4 linked regions of the Homo sapiens genome follow. The protein of the gene in region 3 purifies or fractionates together with the protein of the main gene of each other region. This does not show direct contact. Each region holds a gene or a part of one and is shown on either strand. Other genes may lie near its edges. The genes, in order: CHD4, EHMT2, DNMT1 and MTA1.

The links.
Region 1: the proteins of DNMT1 (region 3) and CHD4 purify together in Homo sapiens (affinity purification with western blotting; 2 studies listed by BioGRID, with this or other methods). This does not show direct contact.
Region 2: the proteins of DNMT1 (region 3) and EHMT2 purify together in Homo sapiens (affinity purification with western blotting; 3 studies listed by BioGRID, with this or other methods). This does not show direct contact.
Region 4: the proteins of DNMT1 (region 3) and MTA1 purify together in Homo sapiens (affinity purification with western blotting; 4 studies listed by BioGRID and IntAct, with this or other methods). This does not show direct contact.

What each region holds. Positions count from the first base shown.
Region 1 is NC_000012.12:6,590,369-6,597,387, reverse strand, and holds part of CHD4 (chromodomain-helicase-DNA-binding protein 4), read left to right. Parts: intron 1-1,250; coding exon 1,251-1,382; intron 1,383-1,957; coding exon 1,958-2,054; intron 2,055-2,737; coding exon 2,738-2,929; intron 2,930-3,771; coding exon 3,772-3,972; intron 3,973-4,159; coding exon 4,160-4,297; intron 4,298-4,570; coding exon 4,571-4,692; intron 4,693-4,821; coding exon 4,822-4,995; intron 4,996-5,330; coding exon 5,331-5,472; intron 5,473-5,562; coding exon 5,563-5,694; intron 5,695-5,804; coding exon 5,805-5,922; intron 5,923-7,019. UniProt on the Homo sapiens protein: ATP-dependent chromatin-remodeling factor that binds and distorts nucleosomal DNA. Acts as a component of the histone deacetylase NuRD complex which participates in the remodeling of chromatin.
Region 2 is NC_000006.12:31,880,680-31,887,698, reverse strand, and holds part of EHMT2 (histone-lysine N-methyltransferase EHMT2), read left to right. Parts: intron 1-39; coding exon 40-122; intron 123-597; coding exon 598-704; intron 705-801; coding exon 802-924; intron 925-1,016; coding exon 1,017-1,118; intron 1,119-2,643; coding exon of another isoform or gene 2,644-2,682; coding exon 2,683-2,787; coding exon of another isoform or gene 2,788-2,808; intron 2,809-2,899; coding exon 2,900-3,054; intron 3,055-3,139; coding exon 3,140-3,307; intron 3,308-3,494; exon of another isoform or gene 3,495-3,748; coding exon 3,749-3,893; exon of another isoform or gene 3,894-4,259; coding exon 4,260-4,337; exon of another isoform or gene 4,338-4,689; coding exon 4,690-4,805; exon of another isoform or gene 4,806-4,913; coding exon 4,914-5,000; exon of another isoform or gene 5,001-5,026; intron 5,027-6,138; exon of another isoform or gene 6,139-6,303; intron 6,304-6,577; exon of another isoform or gene 6,578-6,606; coding exon 6,607-6,685; intron 6,686-6,850; coding exon 6,851-7,019. UniProt on the Homo sapiens protein: Histone methyltransferase that specifically mono- and dimethylates 'Lys-9' of histone H3 (H3K9me1 and H3K9me2, respectively) in euchromatin.
Region 3 is NC_000019.10:10,184,937-10,191,955, reverse strand, and holds part of DNMT1 (DNA (cytosine-5)-methyltransferase 1), read left to right. Parts: intron 1-7,019. UniProt on the Homo sapiens protein: Methylates CpG residues. Preferentially methylates hemimethylated DNA. Associates with DNA replication sites in S phase maintaining the methylation pattern in the newly synthesized strand, that is essential for epigenetic inheritance.
Region 4 is NC_000014.9:105,415,005-105,422,827, forward strand, and holds the start of MTA1 (metastasis-associated protein MTA1), read left to right. Parts: upstream 1-4,822; 5' UTR 4,823-5,031; coding exon 5,032-5,059; intron 5,060-6,943; exon of another isoform or gene 6,944-6,958; coding exon of another isoform or gene 6,959-7,154; intron 7,155-7,823. UniProt on the Homo sapiens protein: Transcriptional coregulator which can act as both a transcriptional corepressor and coactivator. Acts as a component of the histone deacetylase NuRD complex which participates in the remodeling of chromatin.

The sequences.
Region 1 (7,019 bases), on a different chromosome or scaffold from region 3:
CTCAAGCAATCTGTCTGCTTCAGCTTCCCAAAGTGTTAGGATTACAGGCGTGAGCTACTGCGCCTGACACTTCATGTTATTATCTTTATTTATTTATTTTATTATTATTGTTTTTTTTTGAGACAGACTTGTCACCCAGGCTGGAGTGCAGTGGCGTGATCTTGGCTCACTGCAAGCTCTGCCTCCTGGGTTCACGCCATTTTCCTGCCTCAGCCTCCCGAGTAGCTGGGACTACAGGCCATCGCCACCATGCCTGGCTAATTTTTTTTTTTTTGTATTTTTAGTAGAGACGGGATTTCACTGTGTTAGCCAGGATGGTCTTGATCGCCTGACCTTGTGATCCGCTCACCTCCTCCTTCCAAAGTGCTGGGATTACAGGCGTGAGCCGCCGCACTCGGCCTATTTATTTATTTATTTATTATATTTTTTGAGACAGAGTCTTGCTCTGTGGCCCAGCCTGGAGTGCAGTGGTATGATCTAAGCTCACTGCAACCTCCGCCTCTCAGGCTCAAGTGATTCTCTGCCTCAGCCTCCAGAGTAGCTGGGATTACAGGCGTGTGCCACCACGCCTGCCTAATTTTTTTTTTTGAAATGGAGTCTCGTTCTGTCGCCCAGGCTGGAGTGCAGTGGCGCAATCTCAGCTTGCTGCAACCTCCGCCGCCCGGGTTCAAGCAATTCTCCTGCTTCAGCTTCCCGAGTAGCTGGGATTACAGGCACCTGCCACCATGCCCGGCTAATTTTTGCATTTTTAGTAGAGACGGGGTTTCTCCATGCTGGCCAGACTGGTCTTGAACTCCCGACCTCAGGTGATCCGCCTGCCTTGGCCTCCCAAAGTGCTGGGATTATAGGCGTGAGCCACCGCGCCCGGCCTGATGCCTGGCTAATTTTTTTTTTTTTTTTTAGTAGAGACGGGTTTCGCCATGTTGGCCTGGCTGGTCTTGAGCTCCTGGCCTCAAGCGATCTGCCTGCCTCAGCTTCCCAAAGTGCTGGGATTACAGGCGTGAGCCACTGCACCCGGCCAACACTCTATGTTAATTATTAACTGACTGAATTCTGGTGTTTGAGCTCTAGGAAAGTATAAATTAGAGATAATTTTTGGTCAGAGACTGGTACAGTAGAGGCTCTGAAAACGTGTGATCTGTGGCATACCTAGAGGTCTGGTGTGAAACAAACGGTATTGCCAGTTTTTGAGAGGAAGTGAGGAGGGTTGCCTTTTCTGGCTCTGAGGGTTTTCTCTCCTGGACTTGCAGTGTGGACAAGAAGGGCCACGTCCACTACTTGATCAAGTGGCGGGACTTACCTTACGATCAGGCTTCTTGGGAGAGTGAGGATGTGGAGATCCAGGATTACGACCTGTTCAAGCAGAGCTATTGGAATCACAGGTGAGTGATTTTGGGTGAGGCATAGAGTTGTTTCTTTTTTTTTTTTTTTGAGATGGAGTCTTGCTCTGTCACCAAGCTGTAGTGCAGTGGCGTGATCTTGACTCACTGCAACCTCCGACTTCCTGGTTCAAACGATTCTCCTGCCTTAGCCTCCTGAGTAGCTGGGATTATTTGCATACGCCACCACACCTAGCTGATTTTTTTTTTTTTTTTTTTTGAGACGAAGTCTTGCTCTTGTCCCCCAGGCTGGAGTGCAATGGTGCGATCTTGGCTCGCTGCAGCCTCCGCCTCCTGGGTTCAAGCAATTCTCCTGCCTCAGTCTCCCGAGTAGCTGAGATTACAGGCGTCTGCCACCATGCCCAGCTAATTTTTGTATTTTTAGTAGAGACGGGGTTTCACCATGTTGACCAGGCTGGTCTCGATCTCCTGACCTCAGGTGATCCGCCCGTCTCAGCCTCCCAAAGTGCTGGCCTCCCAAAATGCTGGGATTACAGGTGTGAGCCACTGTGCCTGGCCAAGTTGTTTCTTCTATAGAAAAGGATTTTGGGCAGCTGTGTGATGTCTTTCTTCTTTAGGGAGTTAATGAGGGGTGAGGAAGGCCGACCAGGCAAGAAGCTCAAGAAGGTGAAGCTTCGGAAGTTGGAGAGGCCTCCAGAAACGCCAACAGTTGATGTGAGTGGGGGTGGAAGGGACTGTAGTTTGTTGGGTAGGACAATGTATCTTTGCTGCAGTCTAATGATGGTACTCTTAAGTAATGAAATGCAGATAGTAACTTTGTAGCTGAGATTACTTCACAAAGTCGGCTTCCCCACTTCTCCACATCTCTATATATCAGAAAGCACTAGGATTACTTTCTTCTTTTGTCATCAGAAAAAAAAAAAGGAGGTATATTTTGAATGATTGAAGAAGTGTTGTCTGGGGGGAGGGGCCACATAGCCTAGCTTTTATGCACTTACATAGGAATCTGGCTTAATTCAGGCTCAGTTCCTCTGGGTTTTGTTTGTACAGTGTAATTTGAGGGTGATTAAAGTTAAAAAGATGAATCTAAGAGGGACATAACGATTATTTACCTGGTGGATCCTGACTAGTAGAATTATTGTATTGGTAGGGAGTCTGTGACGTGCTTTTCCTCAGTGATCTGTAGGATCAAAATCAGGTCTGGTTAAGCCCTGTTTCCTGGAGGACCCTAAACTGAACATGAAATTGCAGTAATCATAGGGGATCTCTTCCCTCCGAATTTTCCGGAGCTCTTCCCCAAGAGGATCCGTGAAGACTAGTGAGGAGGAAGCAGCTGCTCTATTAGGGGAGGAGGGGAGTTCCTTGCCAGCTCTTGACTTCTCTGTTTCATCCTTCAGCCAACAGTGAAGTATGAGCGACAGCCAGAGTACCTGGATGCTACAGGTGGAACCCTGCACCCCTATCAAATGGAGGGCCTGAATTGGTTGCGCTTCTCCTGGGCTCAGGGCACTGACACCATCTTGGCTGATGAGATGGGCCTTGGGAAAACTGTACAGACAGCAGTCTTCCTGTATTCCCTTTACAAGGAGGTAAGGAAATCTGGGGTGGATAGTTTTTTGTGTGGGTGTTTTGTGTTTGAAGCCTTAACTTACACTGAGTAGAGAGATAAGGGAATAAAAAAATTGGTCTCTGACCTTCAAGAACACTGTGGATAATAGATAAACACATGTACACATGTGTTTAGTAGATAGTAGATAAATGTGATAGTGGATAAACACATGTACACAGCGGAAGATTTGAGGGCATGGAGCCCTGGGTAGGATTAGCAGTGGATCCATAGAGTATCAGTTCTAGGGGAATGATTGTGTGTTGAGGGAAGTAGAATTATGAGTAGAATTAGTATGGAAAGGCTTGGCTGGACGCAGTGGCTCATACCTGTAATCCCAGCACTTTGGAAGCCCGAGGTTGGTGGATCACCTGAGGTCAGGAGTTCGAGACCAGCCTGACCAACATGGCGAAACCCCGTCTCTACTAAAAATACAAAATTAGCCGGATGTGGTGGTGCACGCCTGTAATCCCAGCTACTTGGGAGGCTGAGGCAGGAGAATCGCTTGAACCCGGGAGGTGGAGGTTGCAGTGAGCTGAGATTGCGCCATTGCACTCCAGCCTGGGCAACAAGAGTGAAACTCCGTCTCAGAAAAAAAGTATATAAAGACTTAATGGGAGAGGTAAGACTTGTAGTTATGGTGGGACCTTGGGTTTTTGGAAAGGAGTGGGCTGGGCACTTGTATAGAGGAAGGTGAGAGCAGGAGCAGCAGCGCAGGTGTGTCAGTCCTTGGCTCAGCTTGAGGGGGCAGCAGGGTGGTGGGTGTTCGCTGGGGTTGCAGTGTGCTGGGGCCCTCAGTCCTGACTCTCCTCTTTTTTCTCAAAGGGTCATTCCAAAGGCCCCTTCCTAGTGAGCGCCCCTCTTTCTACCATCATCAACTGGGAGCGGGAGTTTGAAATGTGGGCTCCAGACATGTATGTCGTAACCTATGTGGGTGACAAGGACAGCCGTGCCATCATCCGAGAGAATGAGTTCTCCTTTGAAGACAATGCCATTCGTGGTGGCAAGAAGGCCTCCCGCATGAAGGTATCTCAGGGGAGGGAAGCCACCCTAGAGAAAGAGTTGTGGCTTCTGGCTTAGTTTACCTCCTTGTGATCTGGTCCCTGGTGAGGCAAAAGGGTAACCCTGGGAGGAGGAAAACATTCCATCAGTCTCCTGGTTGTGCTTACACAGAGGAACTGACTAGTAGTGACCAAGTTGCCTTCATGTGCAGAAAGAGGCATCTGTGAAATTCCATGTGCTGCTGACATCCTATGAATTGATCACCATTGACATGGCTATTTTGGGCTCTATTGATTGGGCCTGCCTCATCGTGGATGAAGCCCATCGGCTGAAGAACAATCAGTCTAAGGTGAGGGCTGAGGGAGGGATGTTGGAGCCCCCACTTTGGGTTTTTTCTAGTACTACCAATTCATTAAGGGGAAAACTTGTAGATGGAGAGGAGAGGGGAAAATTGTCTCTGCCTTCCTTCCTTGTATGTGACAGCCCTTGGTGGCCAGGCCTTTAAAAAGAATGTGAGGAGTGGGATGCTTAACTATTGGGCAGTGAAAAACTTGAAATTTTGTAGAGATTTGCTAGAGCTCTGTTTTCATTGGATTTCACCTTTCTCCATCTGCTTCACCAGTTCTTCCGGGTATTGAATGGTTACTCACTCCAGCACAAGCTGTTGCTGACTGGGACACCATTACAAAACAATCTGGAAGAGTTGTTTCATCTGCTCAACTTTCTCACCCCCGAGAGGTTCCAGTAAGTATGTGTTTATCTGTAATCGGCTCATAATTGTGCCTCTCATTCTTCCTGTTGCCCATTTCCTGTATCACTTTTCTTTCTTCCTTTCTCCTTCTCCAATAACTTTTTTCCTTTTTCTTTCTGAAGCAATTTGGAAGGTTTTTTGGAGGAGTTTGCTGACATTGCCAAGGAGGACCAGATAAAAAAACTGCATGACATGCTGGGGCCGCACATGTTGCGGCGGCTCAAAGCCGATGTGTTCAAGAACATGCCCTCCAAGACAGAACTAATTGTGCGTGTGGAGCTGAGCCCTATGCAGAAGTGAGTTGGGAGGGACAGAAGCAGACTCCATTTAGACATCTGCCAGTCTGCAGAGTGTTTCCTATTCCTCCCCCACTCAGCTTCAAGGCATCTGGTGACAGGAGCAAGCAAGGCCTGAAGAAACCTGATGCTAGGGCGCTGGAGCGCATAGTTCTTACTTATTTTAGGTTATACCTTTCCTTATTTAAAATGGTGGTGGTGGTAGTGCTTGTGCGTTAGGTGTCCTTAGTTCCAAAGTGGGATGTGTTGGAAGAAAGATCTCAGTTGTTGGCACTGCATTATTAGTCATTGAAAGGCTCTCAAGTCTAACCTGTCTTTCTACCTTGCCCATGTAGGAAATACTACAAGTACATCCTCACTCGAAATTTTGAAGCACTCAATGCCCGAGGTGGTGGCAACCAGGTGTCTCTGCTGAATGTGGTGATGGATCTTAAGAAGTGCTGCAACCATCCATACCTCTTCCCTGTGGCTGCAATGGTATGTAGTGCCATCTCCTGTTCCTCCCTGGGTTGGGTCTTCTCCATGTGGGCTTTCTTTTAATACTTTTTTCTTTGCATTTGTTCTCAGGAAGCTCCTAAGATGCCTAATGGCATGTATGATGGCAGTGCCCTAATCAGAGCATCTGGGAAATTATTGCTGCTGCAGAAAATGCTCAAGAACCTTAAGGAGGGTGGGCATCGTGTACTCATCTTTTCCCAGGTATCATGTGGACTGGGAGCTTTAGGGAACAGTCATAGACAACCCTTAGTGACCTAAGGAAAGGGATTACCATCTGACTCTTCCATAATTAAACCGTGCTTCTTTTGCAGATGACCAAGATGCTAGACCTGCTAGAGGATTTCTTGGAACATGAAGGTTATAAATACGAACGCATCGATGGTGGAATCACTGGGAACATGCGGCAAGAGGCCATTGACCGCTTCAATGGTGAGAGAGAAGGAGTTGTTTAGTTTCAGGAATCCTCATTTGCTTATATCTTTGGACTGTAACTTCTTGTGCATCTCCTTTTCTGTGTAGTTCTTTTGGGACTTTGTCATTTGAGATGGAGTAAAGCTTTTGAATGTCTCAATTGGACGAATGTATTGGACTATTCCTAGGAGATTTTTTCTTTTGGGGTATTTGTTCTTTCTGCTAGAAAGAAGAAAGCATTGTATCTCGAGGGCAAGCAAAGGGTCAGGACTTGTTCAAGCTCAAATAGCAAGTTACTAGCAGACTTGTCTGCCTCAGTAGACGCTACTAGGTTTTTTTTTTTTTTTTTTTTTTTTTTTTTGAGATGGAGTCTTGCTCTGTCGCCCAGGCTGGAGTGCAGCGGCACGATCTTGGCTCACTGCAACCTCCGCCTCCCGGGTTCAAGCAGTTCTCCTGCCTCAGCCTCCCAAGTAGCTGGGACAACAGGCGTGTGCCACCACGCCCAGCTAATTTTTGTATTTTTAGTAGAGATGTGGTTTCACCATGTTGGCCAAGATGGTCTCGATCTCCTGACCTCATGATCCGCCCACCTCGGCCTCCCAAAGTGCTGGGATTACAGGCACGAGCCACCACGCCCAGCCTGTTTTGTTTTGTTTATTCGAGATAGGGTCTCACTCTGTTGCCGAGGCTGGAGAGCAGTGGCACAATCATGGCTTACTACAGCCTGGACACACCCCCAGGCTCAAGTGATCCTGCTGCTTCAGCCTCCCAACTAGCTGGGGCTGTAGGCTTGATCCACTGTACCTAGCTAACTAAAAAAATTTTTTTGTAGAGATGGGGTCTTGCCATGTTGCCCAGGCTGATCACAAAGTTCTGGGCTCAAGCAATCCTCCTGCCTTGGCCTCCCAAAGTATTGAGATTATAGGCATAAGCCACTGTGCTCAGTATCACTACTCCTTGTTTAAAAAAAAAAAACTTTTTATTTTAATTTTAGACTTAGAAAAAAGTTGCAAAACAGCAGAGAGAGTTCATGTATACTGTTCAACTAGCTAGCTTCTCTTAATAATAACTTACGTAACTGCAGTACAATGATCAAAACTAGAAAATTAACATTG
Region 2 (7,019 bases), on a different chromosome or scaffold from region 3:
AGCTCCCCTTCTCTCCCCGCTCCCGTGCTCCCTTGGCAGGCGGAAGAAGCTCCGTTTCCACCCTCGGCAGTTGTACCTGTCCGTGAAGCAGGGCGAGCTGCAGAAGGTGATCCTGATGCTGTGTGAGTGCCACCCATTCCTTCAGCAGACCTTGACCAAGCTTCATGTATATACCAGGCACTGGGTACAGGGCCAGGAGTACAGTCGTGAAGGACACAGTCCTTGCCCTGAAGGACTTAGTGTGGTGGGGAAAAGACACATGTAACCCATAACGATGGGGATGTGGTGACTCATAGGTGCTGGGTCCTGTTCTGAGTGCTTATACCTGTTAGCCTTGGCTTGCACAGAGAGGTTAGGGACCTTGCACAGTGCACAGTGGTACTGAGAAGCAAGGCAGGGTTTGAATTCAGGCAGAGCTGATGCCTTTGACTCCTTATTCTGATAAATGCTGTGGTGGAGGCAAGCTCGGAGAATGCCAGGAGGGGCCCTGATCCAGCTTGGGGCCCTGAGAAGCCTTCCTGAAAGAAGTGCCACCTGCCCCCTAGCTTGCTTACCACTTGTCCCTCCCTCTCCCGGTGTGGCGGGCTCTCCCCGCAGTGGACAACCTGGACCCCAACTTCCAGAGCGACCAGCAGAGCAAGCGCACGCCCCTGCATGCAGCCGCCCAGAAGGGCTCCGTGGAGATCTGCCATGTGCTGCTGCAGGTCAGCACGGGCCCGGCCCCATGCCTCATTCACCAGGCCCTTAGGCCCCTCCCCTGCCCCATGCCTCCCTGGTGCCAGCCCTCCTGCCCCCTCACAGGCTGGAGCCAACATAAATGCAGTGGACAAACAGCAGCGGACGCCACTGATGGAGGCCGTGGTGAACAACCACCTGGAGGTAGCCCGTTACATGGTGCAGCGTGGTGGCTGTGTCTATAGCAAGGTGTGCGCGCAGGCAGCAGGGCGTGGCCCCCGGAGTCAGGGACCAGGTTTGGGGTGCCAGCCCAAAGGCTCATTTGCCCGTGTCTCCCTCAGGAGGAGGACGGTTCCACCTGCCTCCACCACGCAGCCAAAATCGGGAACTTGGAGATGGTCAGCCTGCTGCTGAGCACAGGACAGGTGGACGTCAACGCCCAGGTCAGCGGCCCACCCAGCCCAGCCCCTCTGGGTCCCTGGTGCCTGGGTTCCTTGGCTTGGCCTCAGGCTTTGGGCCGCCTTTCCTACATCTGACCTCACACTGCTCGTGTCTGTCCTCATTGCTTTCTTCTTCCTCATTTGTATTTCTCTTCATTCTTTTCTTTCTCGTTTCTTTCTCTTTATCAAGTTTCAGAATAATCAGTTCCTGTCTTAATCTCTGAAAGTGTCCAGTGAGGCTTTTTATTAACTCTTGGGTTGTCATACATTGGATGTGTTTTAGTCATTTATTGGCATTCTTCTCAGTCTTTGAATTATTCCATCATTGTCCAGAAGAAGCCCCTTTAAGAGGCCTCTGTGGCTGTGACATGACCCAGTGGCCCAGTGGCCTTTGAGAGCCTCCTGACCTTTCAGCACATTTCCTGCCCCCAACTCAGAATCCACCATTTCTCTAAGAAACTCTGCTTCCTTTATGGGAAACTTTTTTTTTTTTTTTTGAGACGGAGTCTCACTCTGTTGCCCAGGCTGGAGTGCAATGGCGTGATCACAGCTTACTGCAAGCTCCGCCTCCCAGGTTCACGCCATTCTCCTGCCTCAGCCTCCCGAGTAGCTGGGATTACAGGCGCCCACCACCATGCCCGGCTAATTTTTGTATTTTTAGTAGAGACGGGGTTTCACCATATTGGCCAGGCTGATCTTGAACTCCTGACCTCGTGAGCCACAGCGCCCGGCCAGAAGCATTTTTTAGAGAATACAATCTATGTTCCTAGGAGTGTTTATTGTTATTGGGTTGTCGCTGCTTCTAGGACTTTTGAGTGGGCAGACTTAGGAAATTTTTGTTCGTTTTTTCTTTTAAGAGACAGGGTCTTGCTATGTCACCCAGGCTGAAGTACAGTAGCAGTTCACAGACAGTCATAGCTCTCTGCAGCCTCGAAATCCTGGGCTCAAGCAACCCTCCCATCTCAGTCACATGAGTAGCTGGGACTACAGGCATGCACCTCCATGACCAGCTCCTGGCTGTATTTTTTGGAAAGAGAACAATTACTTTATTTTCTCTCTGGCATCAGATGGTAGACGCTACTAGTCCCATTTTTGTTTGTTTGTTTTTTGAGACGGAGTCTTGCTCTGTCGCCCAGGCTGGAGTGCAGTGGCACGATCTTGGCTCACTGCAAGCTCCGCCTCCCGGGTTCACGCCATTCTGCCTCAGCCTCCCTAGTAGCTGGGACTACAGGCGCCTGCCACCACGCCCAGCTAATTTTTTCTATTTTTTAGTAGAGACAGGGTTTCACCGTGTTGGCCACAATGGCCTCCATCTCCTGACCTCGTGATCCGCCCGCCTCGGCCTCCCAAAGTGCTGGGATTACAGGCATGAGCCACCGCGCCCGACCCTACTAGTCCCATTTTTTAGATGAAGAAACTGCGACCCAGAGACGTTAAGTGACTTACCCAGGGTCCCACAGCTTGTGAATGGTGGAGCTGGGATTCACACACACAGCCAATCTTGACCATTTGCTGCTTTGGTGAGCAGGGCCAGCTGCCCCCACCCTCACTCCCTTCCCACCCACAGGACAGTGGGGGGTGGACGCCCATCATCTGGGCTGCAGAGCACAAGCACATCGAGGTGATCCGCATGCTACTGACGCGGGGCGCCGACGTCACCCTCACTGACAACGTGAGTGAGCGTTTGGTTGAGGTAGGGCAGCCCCAGGCCCCTGAGCAAGGTGGAGGCTGGATTCAAGGGCCCAGCTGCCTGCACCTCATCTGTTCCCCTCCTACCTCCACAGGAGGAGAACATCTGCCTGCACTGGGCCTCCTTCACGGGCAGCGCCGCCATCGCCGAAGTCCTTCTGAATGCGCGCTGTGACCTCCATGCTGTCAACTACCATGGGGACACCCCCCTGCACATCGCAGCTCGGGAGAGCTACCATGACTGCGTGCTGTGAGCCCCTGCCCCGCCCTTGATGCCCCTGCCCCCACTTCTTGCAGCCTCAGACCCTGCATTGGGCATCCTGTCCCCTCTTCAGGTTATTCCTGTCACGTGGGGCCAACCCTGAGCTGCGGAACAAAGAGGGGGACACAGCATGGGACCTGACTCCCGAGCGCTCCGACGTGTGGTTTGCGCTTCAACTCAACCGCAAGCTCCGACTTGGGGTGGGAAATCGGGCCATCCGCACAGAGAAGATCATCTGCCGGTGAGCCCTGGGCCCCTCTCTGCACCCAAGACCACCTCCTCCCCACCCATACCCTCCCCAGGCTCCATTGCATCCTCACAACATTCCCCAACCCCTCCCCATGCACCACTGAATCCCCAGAACCACCCACAGGCCCCCTCCCCACTAGGGTTGCCAGATACAGCAAATAAAAATAGAAGACACCCAGTTAAACTGGAATTTCAGATGCACAGATGCATACTTTTTTAGTGTGAGAATGTCCTGTGTAATTTTTGGGACATACTAAAAAGCTATTTCTTGTTTATCTAAAATTCTATGTTAACTCGCTGTCCTGCATCTTACCTGGCAACCTTACTCCCCTGCCCCCAGCCCCAGGAACCTCCCCAACTCTCTTCCTTATACCTGGAGTAGCTCCTCACCCCCTTTTCCAGCTTCCCAGCCCCTTCTTCCCGTCTTCTGCAGGGACGTGGCTCGGGGCTATGAGAACGTGCCCATTCCCTGTGTCAACGGTGTGGATGGGGAGCCCTGCCCTGAGGATTACAAGTACATCTCAGAGAACTGCGAGACGTCCACCATGAACATCGATCGCAACATCACCCACCTGCAGGTGAGTAGGGGGCCCGGGGCCTCCCCAAAAGGACACCGAGAGCTGCCAAGTACAGTTGGACAAGCTTCAAACCAGCAAAGGCACCTGGCCAAGGAAGGGTTGGCTGAAAGGGAGCCCTGGTGTGGGGTCGCATCCCCACCAGGGGAGGGATCCTTTTCCTAGGTCACAGCAAGGTATCATATGAGCTCCCAGTAGCCCTGGGGACACCACCATACTGATTACCCGTCACCCTAGGACCATCACCACCCACTGTTGTAACACATGGACCCCAAAGAAAGGACAGTGGTTAGGGGGTCAGGGGGCATCAAGAGTAGAGGGGCCCAGACCGATCATGGGGTTGAGCTGACCTCTGCCTCCTCGCCCCAGCACTGCACGTGTGTGGACGACTGCTCTAGCTCCAACTGCCTGTGCGGCCAGCTCAGCATCCGGTGCTGGTATGACAAGGTGCGTGCCCCTTGCCTTGGCCACAGACACCCGGCCCCTCCTTCAGAGGAGCCAGCCTCCAATAAACCAGCTCCCTGGGACCATGTCCCTCACCTCCTACCCTGTGGGGGAAGTGACTGAGAGGACTGGGCAAGGCCTGGGAATCCTGGGATGTGGCTGGGACAGCGATGGGCGTGTGCCCAGGTCTATGCAAACCAGGGATGATGCTCCTGCATTTCGTGCTCTCGGATCTCAGAGCCTGTGTGACCTCCCCAACCCCAACTTCCCTGTCTCTGTAGAGTCTTGGGGTTCCTGGGTGGGCAGCTGAGGTGGGCCCCACAGAGAAACCACTATCCTCCCCTCCGCACCCTAGGATGGGCGATTGCTCCAGGAATTTAACAAGATTGAGCCTCCGCTGATTTTCGAGTGTAACCAGGCGTGCTCATGCTGGAGAAACTGCAAGAACCGGGTCGTACAGAGTGGCATCAAGTGAGGCCCTGCTCCACAGCCCACCCTCTCCCCACCTCACCCTTTCCTCCCTGCCCCTGGGGCTTTTCCAGGGCCTCCACCCAACAGCGCCATCTCTCCTACCCCCAGGGTGCGGCTACAGCTCTACCGAACAGCCAAGATGGGCTGGGGGGTCCGCGCCCTGCAGACCATCCCACAGGGGACCTTCATCTGCGAGTAAGTCACCGGGAGCACCTTAACACCTGGTGGGAAGGGGATACATGGCCACTGCTGACTGCCAGGCCTCCCTCTCAGCCATCTGCCCTGATGAGTCACATGTCTCCATCTGGCCACTCTCCAGCCAGCCTCCTCTGACCCCTATTCCTGCAGCTGAGCAGCCAGCCGCCTCTGACCCCCATCCCCCCAGCTGAGAATGGCACCTGCCTCCACTCTGCCCAGACCACAGAGCTTGTCTTCCCTCCCCTCCACCTCCACCCTCTACCTTCCCCTCCACCCCCTCCTCGCCCTTCCTAGCTGGAGAAAGTGCCAGTTTGGGAGACAAACAGACTTGGGTTTGAGCCCCTCTCTGCTTCTGGATGTTCTTGGCCAAGTTACTTAACCTCTTTGAGCCTTATTTTTCTTGTCTGTAGAGTGGAGGTGATAACAGCTACCTATCTGTCCACCTCCTCAGGGGCCTGTCCCTCTCCATCAGTTCTTTCTCTGCCCAGCATCTGTAATCTCCCCCTTTCTCTTGGCTGCCATCCCACAACCCTCAATCTTACTTTAGTCTCCTTTGGCTCTTTTTTTTTTTTTTTTTTAATTTATTTTTTGAGACGGAGTTTCACTCTTGTTGCCCAAGCTGGAGTGCAATGGCACAATCTTGGCTCACTGCAGTCTCCACCTCCCAGGTTCAAGCGATTCTCCTGCCTCAGCCTCCCAAGTAGCTGGGATTACAGGTGCGCACCACCACACCCGGCTAATTTTTTGTATTTTTAGTAGAAACGGAGTTTCACCATGTTAGCCAGGCTGGTCTCCAACTCCTGACCTCAGATGATCCGCCCACCTCGGCCTCCCAAAGTGCTGGGATTACAGGCGTGAGCCACCGTGCCTGACCATTCTTTGGCCTTTAAAAAAGATAGTCCTCTAACCATACTTGCCTGTTCAACAGACCATCCAGTTTCTTTCCATCATGTCATCTCTCAACTTCTCTGGCAAGCAGCCCCTTCCTGCTGGGCCTCAGTTTCCCCACCATCCACTCACTGCCTGTCCCTGCCAAAATCGGCCTTTGCCCTTCCCACTCTGCTGAAGCTGTCTCTTGACAGTCACTTCCCACCCACGTCCTCTCCGTGTGTCTGAATCTCCCATGTCTGCTCACCCTCCTTAGATAGCTGGCTCCTCTCCTCCCTCTGGTGTCCAGATATGTGTGGGTGCTCTTGCCCCGAATCATGCCTTGAGTTCCTTGCCACTCCTGTACCTCTGGCTCTTCCTGCAGTCCTGGCCCCTCTCCTGTTCCATATCGCCCATTCCTGCCGGGTGGCTCCTGGAACACAAACCTCTCTGTGTCCAAACCCGAACTTCCCCACCCAGGCCAACTGCCCCTACACATTAATCCCCTTAACCACAGAGCTTGTTGTCTGTCTCTGTGCTGACTGAAGGCTTCCTCTGTCAAGGCTGGAATGCTGCCCTTTCACTTGCCCACCACTGCTGCTCCAGGCCTTCCCTTCCCCACACCTGCCAGCCCTGCCCATTCCAGATTCCACAGGCTTGTGAAGAGAGATGGGGCCTGGAGCCACCTCCTAATAGCCCACACTCACCTTCAGAACCATGGATTCCTGTCCCACAGGTATGTCGGGGAGCTGATCTCTGATGCTGAGGCTGATGTGAGAGAGGATGATTCTTACCTCTTCGACTTAGACAACAAGGTGAGCAGGAGACCCTCCTTACCCTGCTGCTCCCCAGGGCTGGCTTTCAGGAGCCTCTGGGAAGTCAGCAAATGGAAACCTGGGGAGGAGGGACTGGGGAGTCAGTGGGTGGGGAGGGCAAGCAGGGTCGGGGGAGATGTGAAGAGTGCCATCCCCCTGCCCCAGGATGGAGAGGTGTACTGCATAGATGCCCGTTACTATGGCAACATCAGCCGCTTCATCAACCACCTGTGTGACCCCAACATCATTCCCGTCCGGGTCTTCATGCTGCACCAAGACCTGCGATTTCCACGCATCGCCTTCTTCAGTTCCCGAGACATCCGGACTGGGGAGG
Region 3 (7,019 bases):
CAGCTACTCGGGAGGCTGAGGCAGGATAATCGCTTGAACCCAGGAGCCGAGATTGCACCGTTGCACTCCAGCCTGGGCAACAGGAGCGAAACTCTGTCTCAGAAAAAAAAAAAATTTTTTTTTTTAGAGATGAGGGTCTTGCTTTGTTGCCCAGGCTGGTCTTGAACTCCTGGACTGAAGCAATCCTCTGCGTTGGCCTCCCAAAGGGCTGAGATTACAGGCGTGAGCCACAGGGCCCGGCCATTATTCCTCAAGAGTTCTTAAAAGTGGATGCTGCAGGAGTTAACTGCCAGGAAGCAGGAATTCCTGCTAAGGTCTGCTGCTTGCCAAAGCCTTTCCCTTCAACAGGGGTTGCCAGTAGGCCACTGGCTCAGGGGCTCTGTTGGCCCTGTGCAAATATTTTGTTTGGCTGAATTGGAATACCATTAGGTGAGCCTTACAATCCACCACTGACCCTGGGTTCCACATTTCTTTACACTCAGATTGCTTCACTGTAGGCATTGGAGTTTTGGAGGACTGCTTTTGACCATGTGGTAGACATTGAAATTGTAGTTTATATGACTCACTCCACAGACTTTTTTTTTTTTTTTTACATTTTGAAAATATTTCATTAAATGAAAAATAAACATGGTATCCAACAGTACTTGAAACTTAGATTTTTTTTTTTTTTTAATTGAGGCAGGGTCTTGCTCTGTGGCCCAGGCTAGAGTGCAATGGTGTGATCTCAGCTCACTGCAGCCTCCGCTTCCCGGGTTTAAGCAATTCTCCTGTCTCAGCTTCCCAAGTAGCTGGGATTACAGGTGTGCACCACCACGCCCAGCTAATTTTTCTTTTTCCCCCTCGAGGCTGAGCCTTGCTCTGTCGCCCAGGCTGGAGTGCAGTGGCCGTGATCTCGGCTCACTGCAACCTCCACCTCCCGAGTTCAAGCAATTCTCCTACTTCAGTGTCCCAAGTAGCTGGGATTACAGGCGCCCGCCACCAAGCCCAGGTAATTTTTGTATTTTTATTAGAGACTGGGTTTTGCCATGTTGACCAGGCTGGTTTCAAACTCTTGATCTCAAGTGATCCACTTATCTTAGCCTCCCAAAATGCTGGGATTACAGGTATGATGGTGTCCAGCCGGTTCATTGTTTTTATTTTATTTTATTTTATTTTATTTTATTTTATTTTATTTTATTTTATTTTATTTTTGAGACAGAGTCTTGTGCTGTCGCCCAGGCTGGAGTGCAGTGGTGCGAACTTGGCTCACTGCAACCTCCCCCTCCCGGGTTCAAGTGATTCTCCTGCCTTAGCCTCCTGAGTAGCTGGGATTACAGGCATGTGCCACCACGCCCGGCTAACTTTTTCTTATTTTTAGTAGAAACCGGGGTTTACCGTGTTGGCCAGGCTGGTGTTGAACTCCTGGACTCAAGTGATTCGCCTGCCTCAGCCCCGCAAAGTGTTGGGATTACAGGCATGAGCCACCGTGCCTGGCCTTTTAATTCATTCTTAAGCCTGCTCTCAGACAGCTAGGCTTGCTTCTCCACAATAAAGAGTGTTGAATTTTGTCGGTGTATCCCGCATGGTGCCATTATAACACTGAAATTAGTGATTATTTCAGGGTCTGTTACCAGAGCGTGTCTGCCGTATTCACTGTATCTGCAGCTTGGAGCACAGTAGACTCAAATGCTTGCATGCCAGCTCTTCCCCTGTACAGCCTGGATTAACACTGATGCTAGCAGACTCCTTTGCACAACTGATTAGCTTTCGTAACTACCACAGCTTTCTTACTGCTAGTCATTCTGTGATGGGATTAAGCTAGGTCTTGAACTCCTTAACTCCAGTTCCTTGGCTACTACTGAGTACATACTGAATAAGGCAAAATTGACTTACCTCTTTTGTTTTGCTCCCCTGTGGTAGAATTCTAGGGGTACAGACTGCTGGGTTTCAAATGCCGCCCTACTTGCCAGCCGTATGGCTAAGTTATTGAACTTCTTGGTGCCTTGGTGTTTCATCTATAAAAAGGGGGTGGGGCTGCCTGCTCGACAGGGGTGTTAGGAAGACTGAGCTTATCAGTACAGATATGTTGAGAGCAGCACCTGTCCAAAGCCCTTCATCACTGGTTATTACGTGGTACTGTGTGTACAGTGGGGATGCTGTGGGTTTGGTTCCAGACCACTGCAGTAAAGTGAATCTAGCAAGAAAGTGAGTCACACACACATTTTGGTTTCCTAGTATGTGTAAAAGTTATTAGACTAGGCCGTGTGCAGTGGCTCATGCCTGTAATCCCAGCAGTTTGGGAGGCCAAGGCAGGAGGATCGCTTGAGCCAAGGAGTTCAAGACTAGTCTGGGCAACATAGGAAGACCCCCCCCATCTCAAAAAAAAAAATAAAGCCAAAAGTGGTGGCATGCACCTGGGGTCCCAGCTACTCGGGAGGCAGAGGTGGGAGGATCACTTGAACCCATGAGGTCGAGGCTGCAGTTTGCCATGATTGTGCCACTGCACTCCAGCCTGGGTGAAGGAGTGAGACTCTGTCTCAAAAAAAAAAAAAAATCAGCTGGGCGTGGTGGCTCACGCCTGTAATCCCAGCACTTTGGGAGGCCAAGGTGGGCAGATCACGAGGTCAGGAGATCGAGACCATCCTGGCTAACACGGTGAAACCCCGTCTCTACTAAAAATACAAAAAAAATTAGCCAGGCATGGTGGCACACGCCTATAGTCCCAGCTCCATGGGAGGCTGAGGCAGGAAAATTGCTTGAACTTGGGAGGCGGAGGTTGCAGTGAGCCGAGATCATGCCACTGAACTCCAGCCTGGGCAACAGAGCGAGACTCCGTCTCAAAAAAAAAAAAAAAATCATCTGAGTCTTCAGCGATTCATAATCTTTTTGCAGGTGGAGGGTCTTGCCTCAAACTTGCCGGCTTAAAGGACATACATTTATTACCTTATGCAGGTCAGAAATCTGATGTGGGTTTCACCGGATGAAAATCAAGGTGTAAGCAGGCTGCATTCCTTTCTGGGGGCTCCAGGGGAGAATCTGTTTCCTATTTTGGGGTGTTGGCAGAAGGTGGTAGTTGTAAGACTCAGGTCCCATTTTCTTCACTGGTTCTAAACTGAGGGTCGTTGCCCGCTTCTGGAGGCGGTCTCATCCCTCGGCTCATGCCCCCTTCCTCTACCTTTAAAGTCAGCATTTGCGGGTTGCATCTCTCTCTGACCCGTCCTCCAACGTTGCCCGCTCTCTGCAGCTAGAAAGGTTCTGTGTTCTTAAGGGCTGAAGTGATTAGATTGGGCCCACCCCAGATAATCCAGGATAATCTCCCCATCTCAAGGTCTGTATTCTTAGTTACATCTGCAAAATCGCTTTGGCCACGTAAAGTAATATATTCACAGGTTCCAGGGATTAGGGCATGAACATTTTTCGGTGGGTCCACTCTTTTTGAGATGGAGTCTCGCTCTGTCACCCAGGCTGGAGTGCAGTGGCATGATCTCGGCTCACTGCAACTTCTGCTTCCTGGGTTCAAATGATTCTTGTGCCTCAGCCTCTTGAGTAGCTGGGATTACAGGCGTGAGCCACCAAGCCCGGTTAATTTTTGTATTTTTAGTAGAGATGGGGTTTTGCCATGTTTCCCAGGCTGGTCTTGAACTCCTGAGCTCAGGTGATCTACCCGCTTCAGCCTCCCAAAGTGCTGGGATTACAGGCATGAGCCACTGTGCCCAGTGGGTCTACTCTTTTGCCTACTGCGGATGCCTTCTTGGGCAGCCCTGCTCCAGCTGCCATGCAGCCGGCCTGAAGAAGCTGGTTTGACAGAGACTTGTAACTTGTCTTGCATGGTCCACTATATTTTATTTTTAGAGACAAGGTCTTGCTGTGTCACCCAGGCTGGAATGCAGCGGCACAATTATAGCTCACTGGGCTCTAGTGATCCTCCTGCCTCAGTCTCCTGAGTAGCTAGGACCACAGGTGCATGCTGCCACACCAAGCTAATTACTATTTTTTGTTTAGGCAGGGTCTCTGCTGTGTTGCCCAGGCTGGTCTTGAATTCCTGAGCTCTATTGATCCTCCCGCTTTGGCTTCCCGAGTAGCTAGGCCTATAGGCACATGCTAGCACACCCAGCTAATTACTAATTACTATTTTTTGTAGAGACAGGGTCTCGCTGTGTTGCTCAGGCTGGTCTTGAATTCCTGGGCTCTAGTGATCCTCCCGCCTCAGCCTCCTGAGTAGCTAAGACTATAGGTGCATGCCACCACACCCAGCTAATTACTATTTTTTGTAGAGACAGGTTCTCGCTGTGTTGCCCAGGCTGGTCTCAAATTCCTGGGCTCTAGTGATCCTTCCGCCTCGGCCTCCTGAGCAGCTAGGAGTACAGGTGCGTGCTGTCATACCCAGCTAATTACTGTTTTCTCGTAGAGACAGGGTCTCACTGTATTGCCCAGGCTGGTCACAAATTCCTGAGCTCTAGTGATCCTCCCGCCTCTGCCTCCCGAGTAGCTAAGACTATAGGTGCATGCTACCACAGCCAGCTAATTATTCTTTCTTGTAGAGACAGGGTCTCGCTCTGTTGCCCAGGCTAGTCTCGAATTCCTGGGCTCAAGTGATCTTCCTGTCCTGGCTTCCCGAGTGTAGAGATTACAGGCATGAGCCACTGCGCCCAGCCATGGTCTGCTGTATTTCAGACGAGCATTTCTGGCGTAGAGGTGTTAGAGTAATCTAACATTTTATAATTTCTTCCTATCCAATCTATACTAGATACCTCTGCTGGGTTAGTTTTCTTAACACGGCTCTGATGTCATTGGTTCTACTTCCCCTTGACTGCTTTGGTGTTTGTTAACTATGGAACAAGATGGATAAGTGTGATGCTTTTGCCCTCCCTCCGACTGTCCCCAGCCACCTCTCTGGAGGTGCCTTTCCCTCCCTGTATGTGGCCAGTCTCACGTTTGTTTCTTGTGTGTTTCCAGAACCAGCCACTTCTCAATGGTGCCCCTGTTTGAGCAGCTTCCTGTGCCCGGTTCACACAGAGCTGTCAACTTCTTCCTGAGGCTGTTATACCCTTTCTCTTGGGAATCCCGCAGGCGTGAGCTGTATTTGCCTTATTCCTCTGTGGTTGTTTATATATATCTTTTTTTTTTTTTTTTTTTTTGAGACGGAGTTTCACTCTTGTTGTCCAGGCTGGAGTGCAATGACGTGACCTTGGCTCACCGCAGCCTCCACCTCCCGGGTTCAAGCGATTCTCCTGCCTCAGCCTCCTGAGTAGCTGGGATTATAGGCATGTGCCACCATGCCTGGCTGATTCTGGATTTTTAGTAAAGACGAAGTTTCTTCATGTTGGTCAGGCTGGTCTCGAACTCCTGACCTCAGGTGATCCGCCCGCCTCGGCCTCCCAAAGTGCTGGGATTACAGGCATGAGCCACCGTGCCTGGCCAGCTGTTTATATATATCTTATCTCCCCTCTGCAGAGGGTTCATCTCTGAGGGAAGCACTAGGAAGGAATCATAGGGTCTCAGGCTGGGCACTAAGCCGGCATTCTGAGTCCTCTGCTCCGTCCTTCACGGCTGTCTGCGACCCTCCTGGCTTCAGCAGGTGTGATCGGTGTCATCACAGTTTTACCAGGGAAGGGATGTCGCTAAAGTTACCCTCCCGCCAGCTCCTCACTGCCTGCCTGGGATCCCACCTGCCACTCTGGGGCCAGGCAGGTTAAATCCAGTTTCTACTGGATGAAACATTCTAGGGGTTTTGAAGGTTTCTCTATTCTCTTTGCCAGGCTAAATATCCCAGTTCATATGAGGGGTTGAAAGAAAGCAGACCCATTCTGCAAGGACACCTTGGTCTCCGCAATCAGTTGAACCTTGTCCTTCACACCCCAGGCAACCTCGGGATCAGGGGACTGGCTGGCTTGGTCGAGGTAGAAGCCATGTCCTTCCAGTTTTCTCAGCGGCGTGACTGAGAAGTCAAGTGTAACGCTATTACCACAGCGTGTGTGCCTCTGGCTGGAAGTACCAGTTTCTGTAGCCCTCCTGACTTAAGGCTCTCCTTGGACCCCAGTTGCTACAAGGGTAGAATGACTTTTGCCTGGAAGAGGTTCCTTGTGCTCCTGGAAATCCTGATGTCAAAGCATCTTTTTTTTTTTTTTTTTTTCTTTTGAGACAGGGTCTTGTTCTGTTGCCCAGGCTGAACAGGCTGGATTGCAGTGGTACCATCATAACTCACTGCAGCCTCAACCTCCCAGGCTCAAGCGATCCTCCCACCTCAGCCTCCCAAGTAGCTGGTACCACAGGTGCACACTAACCACACCCAGCTAATTTTTACATTTTTTTTGTAGAGATGGGATCTCTCAGTGTAGCCCAGGCTGGTCTCAAACTCCTGACCTCAAGTGATCCTCCTGCCTTGGCCTCCCAAGGTGCTGGGATTACAGGCATGAGCCACTGCGTCTTGCCTGGCCTTGTAGCACCTTGAGTCCAAGTGATACAGTATATATAATATACAGTCTATATTACCACTGTGTTTGTAGGGTGCTAAGTGTCTCTTCTACAGAGCAGTCTTTTTTTTTTTTTTTTGAGACAGAGTTTTGCTCTGTTGCCCAGGCTGGAGTGCAGTGGCATGATCTTGGCTCACTGCAAGCTTCACCTCCCGGGTTCACGCCATTCTTCTGCCTCAGCCTCCTGAGTAGCTGGGACTACAGGCGCCCACCACCACGCCTGGCTAATTTTTTGTATTTTTAGTAGAGGCGGGGTTTCACTGTGTTAGCCAGGATGGTCTCCATCTCCTGACCTCATGATCCGCCCACCTCAGCCTTCCAAAGTGCTGGGATTACAGGCGTGAGCCACCGTGCCCGGCCCTACAGAATGGTCTTTCCTAACCACACAGCAAGTCAGGAAGTCCCTGCCTAGTGACACCTACATCTAATCACTTAGCTCTTTGCCTGGAGCAGGGCCTGGCATTCAGCAGGTGCTCATATGTGAGCGGCGCTGGTGGGGAATCAGGGCCCGCATGACCCAGAGCAGCTGTTGTAAGACATGGGTCCAGCAAAGCATTCCTCATGCTG
Region 4 (7,823 bases), on a different chromosome or scaffold from region 3:
AGGCCGTCGCCCCGGCCGCCACTGCGCCTCCCCACCCGCAGGCCTCCGCAGCGCCACGGGCGGCCGCGCGGGGTAGCGTTTGGGGGCTCCCGGGGACGCGGTCTCCGGCGCGCAGGTCCGCCCAGGGTTGGCCGCGTGGTCCCCCGGGCTTCCCACGCCCGATTCGAATTGTGACTCCGGCTGGCTCCGGACCGAGCCGAGGACGCTCCGGCACCACAGCAGGAGCCGCGCGGGCGGGGGCGCGGGGCGCGGAACGGGGCGCGGGGCGCCTGGGAGATGTAGTTCGCGGCCTTCCCCGGCGCACCAGACAATGCCCGACGCGGCCCCGCTGGAGAAACGCCTTCCTTGGCTTTGCAGAAACACCGCTTGCTATTAATACAGCAACGAATACAGCTTTAAAAACGCGCCCAGTGTCCTCCCTGGAATAACAGCTGTTAACATTACCTAAAGGTTATCCCAGATATTTCTAAATGTATATGGGGAGATAAAAGGATGTAATGGAAATACAGAAATACGTGTCGAGTTGCTACTTATAGACTTTTAAATATTTAAAGAAAAAAATTGCTAAAAGCAGATGAATGCTTCTTCACCTCAAGTTTAAAAGTCTCCTTACGATGGCCGGGCGCCGTGGCTCAGGCCTGTAATCCCGGCACTTTGGGAAGCCAAGGCAGGCAGATCGCTTGAGCTCAGGAGTTGGAGAACAGCCTGGGCAACAAAGGGAAGCTCCATCCATACTGAAGATACAAAAATCAGCCGGGCGTGGTGGTGCTCTCCTGTAGTCCCAGCTACTTGGGAGGCTGAGGTGGGAGGATCGCTTGAGCTCAGGAAGTCGAGGCTGCAGTGAGCCGAGATAGGCCCACTGCACTTGAGCCTGGGTGACAGAGTGAGACCCTGTCTCCAAAAAAAAAAAAAAAAAAGTCTTCTACGATTATTTTTAGAAATTACAAAAACATCAAGAGATGAGTGTGTTTGGTTTACAGCAGCAAAGCACGGTTCGGCTGAGGCGGCACCGGCTGACTTCTGCCTGTGAATGGTGAGGAACTGGCACTGACATTTCCATATCCCCTGGCAGGGCATTTCTTACCAGAAGATCAAGGCTCACCGCCAGTATTTGACCCACTGAAAGTCTTTGTTTTGATTTACATCTTTACTGGCTGGACTTAAGATCAGTTTTTGTTGTTGTTGTTAGACAGGGTCTTGCTCTGCCACCCACGCCGCAGTGCAGAGGTGCTATCTCGGCTCACTGCGAACTATGCCTCTCAGGCCTAAGCTATCCTCCTGCCTCAGCCTCTCAAGTAGCAGGGACTACAGGCATGCACCACCACGCCCCGCTAATTTTTATATTTTTCAGTAGAGATGGGTTTTCACTATGTTGCCCAGGCTGGTCTCAAACTCCTGGGTTCAAGTGACCTGCCCAAAGTGCTGGAACTTCAGAGCCAGAGCCCTGGTTTTATACACTTTATTATGTTCCCCTCCCTGCTAGATTGCAAACCCTCTGAGGGCAAAGGTGCTGTTTCCTTACCCTCCAAGGCCTAGAGTGGCCTGTAGCTTGAAGTAGATGTTTAACAAATAATCAATGAGTAAATTATTGTGTTAATCACTTTGTCTTGCTCTGAAATTATCTCAAGCCTTTCATCTCCAAGTAACTTGATATTCTGCCCTTTGCTGTTTATGACTTGATCCAGCCACGGTGCGATTTTGGTGCTTCCGGTTTGCTTGGCTCTTAACTCTTCCTCCCATCCTGCTGTTTTGTCGTCAAGCATTTGAATTCCTGATTGTTGAATTCATGCTGCTATGAAGCTCTGAAAGAAGTCCTGTGGAGTCCTCTTCTGTTTCTTTGGTTGCGTTTTCTTATTTATTTATTTATTTATTTATTTATTTTTTATTTTTGTTTCTTTGAGACGGAGTCTCACTGTGCCGCCCCCAGGCTGGAGTGCAGTGGTGTGGTCTCGGCTCCTGGGTTCATGCAATTCTCCTGCCTCAGCCTCCGGAGTAGCTGGGACTACAGGCACGCGCTACCACACCCAGTTAATTTTTTTGTATTTTTAGTAGAGATGAGGTTTCACTATGTTGACCAGGCTGGTCTCGAACTCCTGACCTCAGGTGATCCTCCTGCCTTGGCCTCCCAAAGTGCTGGGATTACAGGCGTGAGCCACCACGCTCAGCCCAGTTGTGTTTTCTTCCATACTGGGTTTCTCACCGGCCCCTCACACCCTCGATGACTTGTTTTTCTGTTGTTGAATGACATGGATGTGGTCACGTGCCACCTCTCAGCAATGCTCCCACCTCAGCCTCCGGGGATATGCCACTACTTCTGTAGTGCTTTCTGACGTGAAAGCTCTTTCCTGAATGTCTATTCGCTCTGCTACTAAGTGGATGGAGTGGATGGATTTTTTTTTTTTTTTTTTTTTTGGAGACGGAGTCTCGCTCTGTCGCCCAGGCTGGAGTGCAGTGGCATGATCTCGGCTCACTGCAAGCTCCGCTTCCTGGGTTCACGCCATTCTTCTGCCTCAGCCTCCGGAGTAGCTGGGACTACAGGCGCCCGCCACCACGCCCAGCTAATTTTTTCTATTTTTAGTAGAGACGGGGTTTCACCGTGTTAGCCAGGATGGTCTCGACCTCCTGCTCGTGATCCTCCCGCCTCAGCCTCCCAAAGTGCTGGGATTACAGGCGTGAGCCACCGCACCCAGCTGGATTCTTCTTAATTCTTTGTTTTTATTGTTTGACTCACCTGAGGTCTTTGGACTTTGCCTCTGAGCTGGCTTAAGGGCAATCCACCTTGTTCACTGGTCTGGAGTGGGGAGGCAGAGTATGGGTCGGCTGGAGGAGTGGGGCTCTGTGCTCTCTTTTGAGAGTTTACTAAACGTCACTCTGCATGGTGAGGGGTGTGTCCTCTCCGCTGGGGAGGCCTGGCTTGAATTTCAGATTGCCTCCCTGGGACACCAGACCCTGTGCTGTGCTCCCTCAGAAGGACAGCCTTGACTGTCTCCACTCCAGCAGTCAGTTCTCTCCACTCCCACTGGGAGAAGGAGCAAAGGCTGGTGTCTTCAGGAGGCTCCTCTCCAGGCTGGGGCCAGGGAAGAGTGTGCATGTCACTGTCAGGATGTGTCCCAGTGGTGTGGCTGGGTTCTCAGGGTGAAGCTCGTCCATTTCTGGGATGGCAGCGGAAGCAGGCACTACACACGCAGCTTCAGGGGGCTCTCCCCATGCTTCCTAGCTGCCTGGCACTTTCTGGTGTTTCTGGCTAACTTTCTGGCCATGCCAGGAGTTGGTGGAAGGAGATCTCAGGCTGCAGCTTTGCTTTCCTGCTGAGGAGACAGAGGTAGGCTGGGGCTGTAGGACAGGGGAGGCCAGCAGCCCCACCTTCCTTCTGGAGAGACGCTGCCTGTCTGTCATTGCCCCTCTCCTGCACCTGGCCGCTGGCTGGCTGCTCTTCCCTCCCAATCACCAGCAAGCCAGCTCCTGTTCCCTGCAGCCCAGCCCGCAGGATGTGTCCTGGGACCCATAGCCCTCTCTCCCCAGAGACAGCACCGCCCTGCAGCTCGGGTTCCTGGCCCTGTGCTAACCCTGGTGGGGCTTTCCTTACTGGTCTGCTCTGCAGCCATGACATTGTGGCCACCGCTCTCCTTGGGACCCCCACCTGGCTTTCCTCCCAGCACATGCTGTTTCCTACCCACCTGGATGGTGTCCTGTGTGCTGGATTCCCCATGCTGTGTCCCCAGCATCCTGACCATGTCTGTCCCGCCTGCCTAGATCTTGCACCGTGGCCACGGGGCTCCCTCCTGATAGCCCTGAACGCTCCGCTCCATGTCCTACAGAGAGGGATGTCCCAAGTAGATGTCAGCTCCCTCCAGCATCTGAGCAGGCAGGACAGAGACCCACGGTGCTGCTCACATCAGCAGCCTGGAACCCCGAGACAGCTCCTTTTGCTCACCTCCCCCAACACTGATGTTGCACCTGTCTCCAAGCCACTCTGGGACCATCTGTTTCTCTCCATCTGGGAAGCCCCCTTCGCACCTCATGCTCTTCCTGGCTGGGGCGTCTGGGTCACTCACTGGACTCTCCTCTCCTTAGACCTGTGCACAAGCACACACGGGAAGGCATCCTGACAGGTGGTGGGAAGAGAAGGCAGCTGCCTCACTGCGGAAAGAGCACGGCCGCTCCTGGACTCCAGCCCTGTTGGGGCTGGCGGGGTCAGCAGGCGCTGGGTTCCAGCCTCAGGTGGGGTCTTTGGAGGTGGCCTCTGGGCACAGGCACCTCCTCTGCGGCCTTCTCACCAGGTCACGGTTCAGGGAGGCTTTGCCGGCTACGGAGCCTGCCCACACCAAGGCGCGCACGACCACCTGTCCAGAGATGCCACGCGGGCTGGGCGGCGAAGGCCAAGGACACGCCCTGCCTGGTGTCGGGGGCAAAGGTTAGGCCTGGAAGGGAGGTGTGGGGTGGGGACCCCGAGGCCAGGGCTGGGCCGCTGAGCTTCAGGGCCCTTGGGGGGCTCAGGGAGGAATGCCGGAGGACCCCAGCATCAGGAGGAACCCCTGGAGAGCTACGGCAGGACTCACCTGTGGGGCACAGGGAGGGATCACCAGGGAAATGGCCCTTGTGGAGGATCTCCCCTCTACCCCCAGGGCACCAGGGGAGGATCTACCAGGGGGTTCTGGTGGAAGGGCCCACCCGGGAAGCGGCGCGCGGGGAGGACTCGGGGGCGCCGAGAGGAACTGTCCGGGAAGGGGCGCGCGGGCCGCGGGCGGCGCGGGGTCGGTAACGGCCCGTGCGGTGGGCGGCGGCGCCCGAGGCCCCTCCCCGCCGCCCGCGGCCGCTCCTCCTCTTCCTCTCCCGCCCGCGCCGCGGCCCTCCCGTCCCTGCGCGGCCTCGGCGGCCTCGGCGGCGGCGGCGGCGGCGGCGGCGGCAGCAGCGCGGCCCCTTTAAACGCCTGCGGCGCCCCCCGCCCCCGCCATCGCGCCTCCATTTTCCCGGCCGCCCGCGCCGAGCGCCGCGCCCGCCCCGGGCCCCTCCGCCGCCGCCGGCCCGGACATGGCCGCCAACATGTACAGGGTCGGAGGTAAGGCCGCACCGCCTTTATGCCCGGCCCCGACCCGCCCGCAGCCCCCACCCGCCGCCGCTGCCGCCTCCCCCGCCCCTCTGCCCCGCAGGCCCCGCGCCCCCCGCCCGCCCTCGCGGCCCCCGGCTCCTTCCCGAACCGCCCCCCGCCGTGCTCACCCCAACCCAAAATGGCCCCGCGGGTCGGCCCCATCGGGGGCGGGCGGGGCTCGGCGGCCCGGGGGTGGGGGGCGGCCCACCTGTTGGGGCCGAGGGGGCGGCCGCGGGGGTGGCGGGGGGGCGCGGGGCCTGCGGGACATCCGGGGGTCCGGGGCCGGGAGCCCCCAGCGGGAGCACGTGGCCTTGGGAGGCGCCGGCTGCCGGTCTGGGAGCAGGAGTTTTGGGGCTGTGGGGTCTCCCCCGGCCCGCGGCCCTGTGCTGGGACTCCGGTGCATCCCCTCTGGGGATGGGGAGCCCCGGTGAGGGGCCACGTTCCTCCCTAGAGCCCTCCTGCAGCCTGGCCCCGGGGCTTCCCCCAGCAGGGATCCCTCAGGGGGTCTTCAGCAGGGAGCGAGCATCCCGAGCACGCCTCTAAGTCCCCCCAAACTTTTCCCTGCCTCTCGCTCACCTCAGCCCATTCGGGAGGCGCTTTGCAAGGGTTGGGGAGAGGCCGGAGGGCCTCCTGGGCAGGGGCTTCCTCCGTGGGCCCAGCCTCCTGTTGCTCGGGCCCCCCGGGCCTGCAGCTTTGAGCCTTGCCCTCCTTCGTGTGCCTGGGACTCCGTGGGGTCTTTCACAGGAAGGTGGGGGGTCGTGTGCATTCCATCATTCCATCAGCGCCTCCCTCCCCAGGACTCTGAGACCCCTCCCTGCCTGTGACCCTCTCGGGCAGGTGCTCATTACCTTTCCCACCTGCAGCCTGCGCTGCTGGAGGGAGCTGGGGTCACTCCCGCTCTGGCTTGATCCCCATGCCCCTGACCCCGAGTGCCCAGAACACTCTGTGTCTCTCGAGCGTGGCTTCTGCTGCCTTGGACGCCGTGTGGTCTGGCCGGCCAGTCCTGTGACCTTGGGGACGGTGGGAGCCCCCTACATCCCGTCTGTGAGATGGGCGGTCAGTCCGCATCAGCAGCTCTGGGCCTCCCCTGTCCTCTCAGAGGGGCGGTGGGCCTGTACCCCATCCAGCGGCAGCCCCTCCCACAGCCTCATACAGCTTTGCCAGGTCCCTGTGTGGACCCAGGTGCGCTGAGCCCACCCCACGCTCAGGGAGCAGCCTGGGTGCGGGGTCCCTCGAGGGAGGGGCCTGTTCCTTCCTGTTCTTTCTCCCCACCTGGAGACCCCCCTTCCAGCCTGACATGAGGGCCCAGTTTCTCACCCTGGCAGAGAGGATGCCTGCTGCCTGGGCTCCAGCCGGGCCCACTGCGCATGGTTTTGGGATTGGTCCCAAGAAGAGCTCTCCCTGCCCCCACCCATGTTGGGGGTGGGGAGTGGTGGCAGCTTTGGGCTCTAGGGCTGGGGACACCCCGACCCCAACTCATGCCTTCCTAGTGGCTGCATTGCTCGGCCTTCAGGCCTGCCTGCCTGTGATCTTGGCGCCAGCCTGGCTGCCCCCCCTCCAACCTTCCCATGCCTCGGTTTCCCCATGGTGTGGGTGAGGACCTCGTCTCTCAGCCGTCCTTTTGTGCCCTGTGGCAGCTGTGCTGTGGCTGATGAAAGCCAGGACCCTGCCTTGTCCCATCCCGGAGGTGCAGCTCCCCTGGGCCCCACACAGGCTTGGGAGGAGCCCTTCGTGGGGCTGCGCCGCCCTCCCCGAACCCTCTGTCCCCCTGTGCCCGCAGGCCCGTCCCAGGGCCTCACTGACCCACGCACTCCAGTGCTGTGAGGGTGGGTGGCCTGGACTCCTAGGCTGTGGCGGAGGGGCCCCACCATGCCTGGCAGAGATGCTGCTGGTCTCTTTTCCTGTGATGAGGAGCATGGGAGGTTGGGTGCTGTCTGCTGGCAGCACAGCCACGCGTGGGATCCAGACTGCTTCTGCGTGTGCAGTCCGTGGTCACTGTGGCCGGGTGTGCTCGGAGCTGTCAGGCCCCCCACGTGCCCGCCCCGAGGACTTCCTCTCCCTGCAGGTGAGACTGTAGGCCTCCCCCTCTCTACTCTGACTGTCCCTATAGGAGAAGCGGCATTTATCCCTGGCTTCTGGACCGGAACCCTGGGTTCCGGCAGGACCCCGGCAGAGCCCTGTGGTCGCAGTGGGCTGGGCATTGCAGGTTGGCTTCCTGTCTTGGTGCTCGCTCGGGGAGGTGGGCGTCTGGATTCTTGAGCCCCCAGACAAGAAAGAGGAAGGTGTGCAGTGTCTCCTGAGCAGCCTTTGTCCGTCTGTCGCCGGCTGCCTGGCACGGGCTCCATCTGGGTGGCCAGTCCTGGCCTGTGGGAGATGCCGGCAGGGACCCAGCCTGGGAAGGGGCTTGCTCCTGTGCCCCCCCACCCCAGGGACCTTGTGTGTAGAGGCACCAAATTTAGTTAAGAAAAGTACAGGACGCCCAGGCAAATTTGAGTTTCAGATAAACAGAAATTTATTAGTGTAAGTATGTCCCAAATATGGCATGGGACATACTTGTCCCAGAAGATTCTTATCTGACATTCACAGTTATCTGGGCAACCCGTATTTTAGCTGGCAGGCTACTCCGAGGCCCTGCCAGGTTGGGCTAGGCAGGGTGAAGGTGTGGTGGCAGTATTTTTGTGCCAGCTGAGCTGGGTGAAGTGGTGAGCAGGGAGGGAACAGGGCCTGTTTCTTC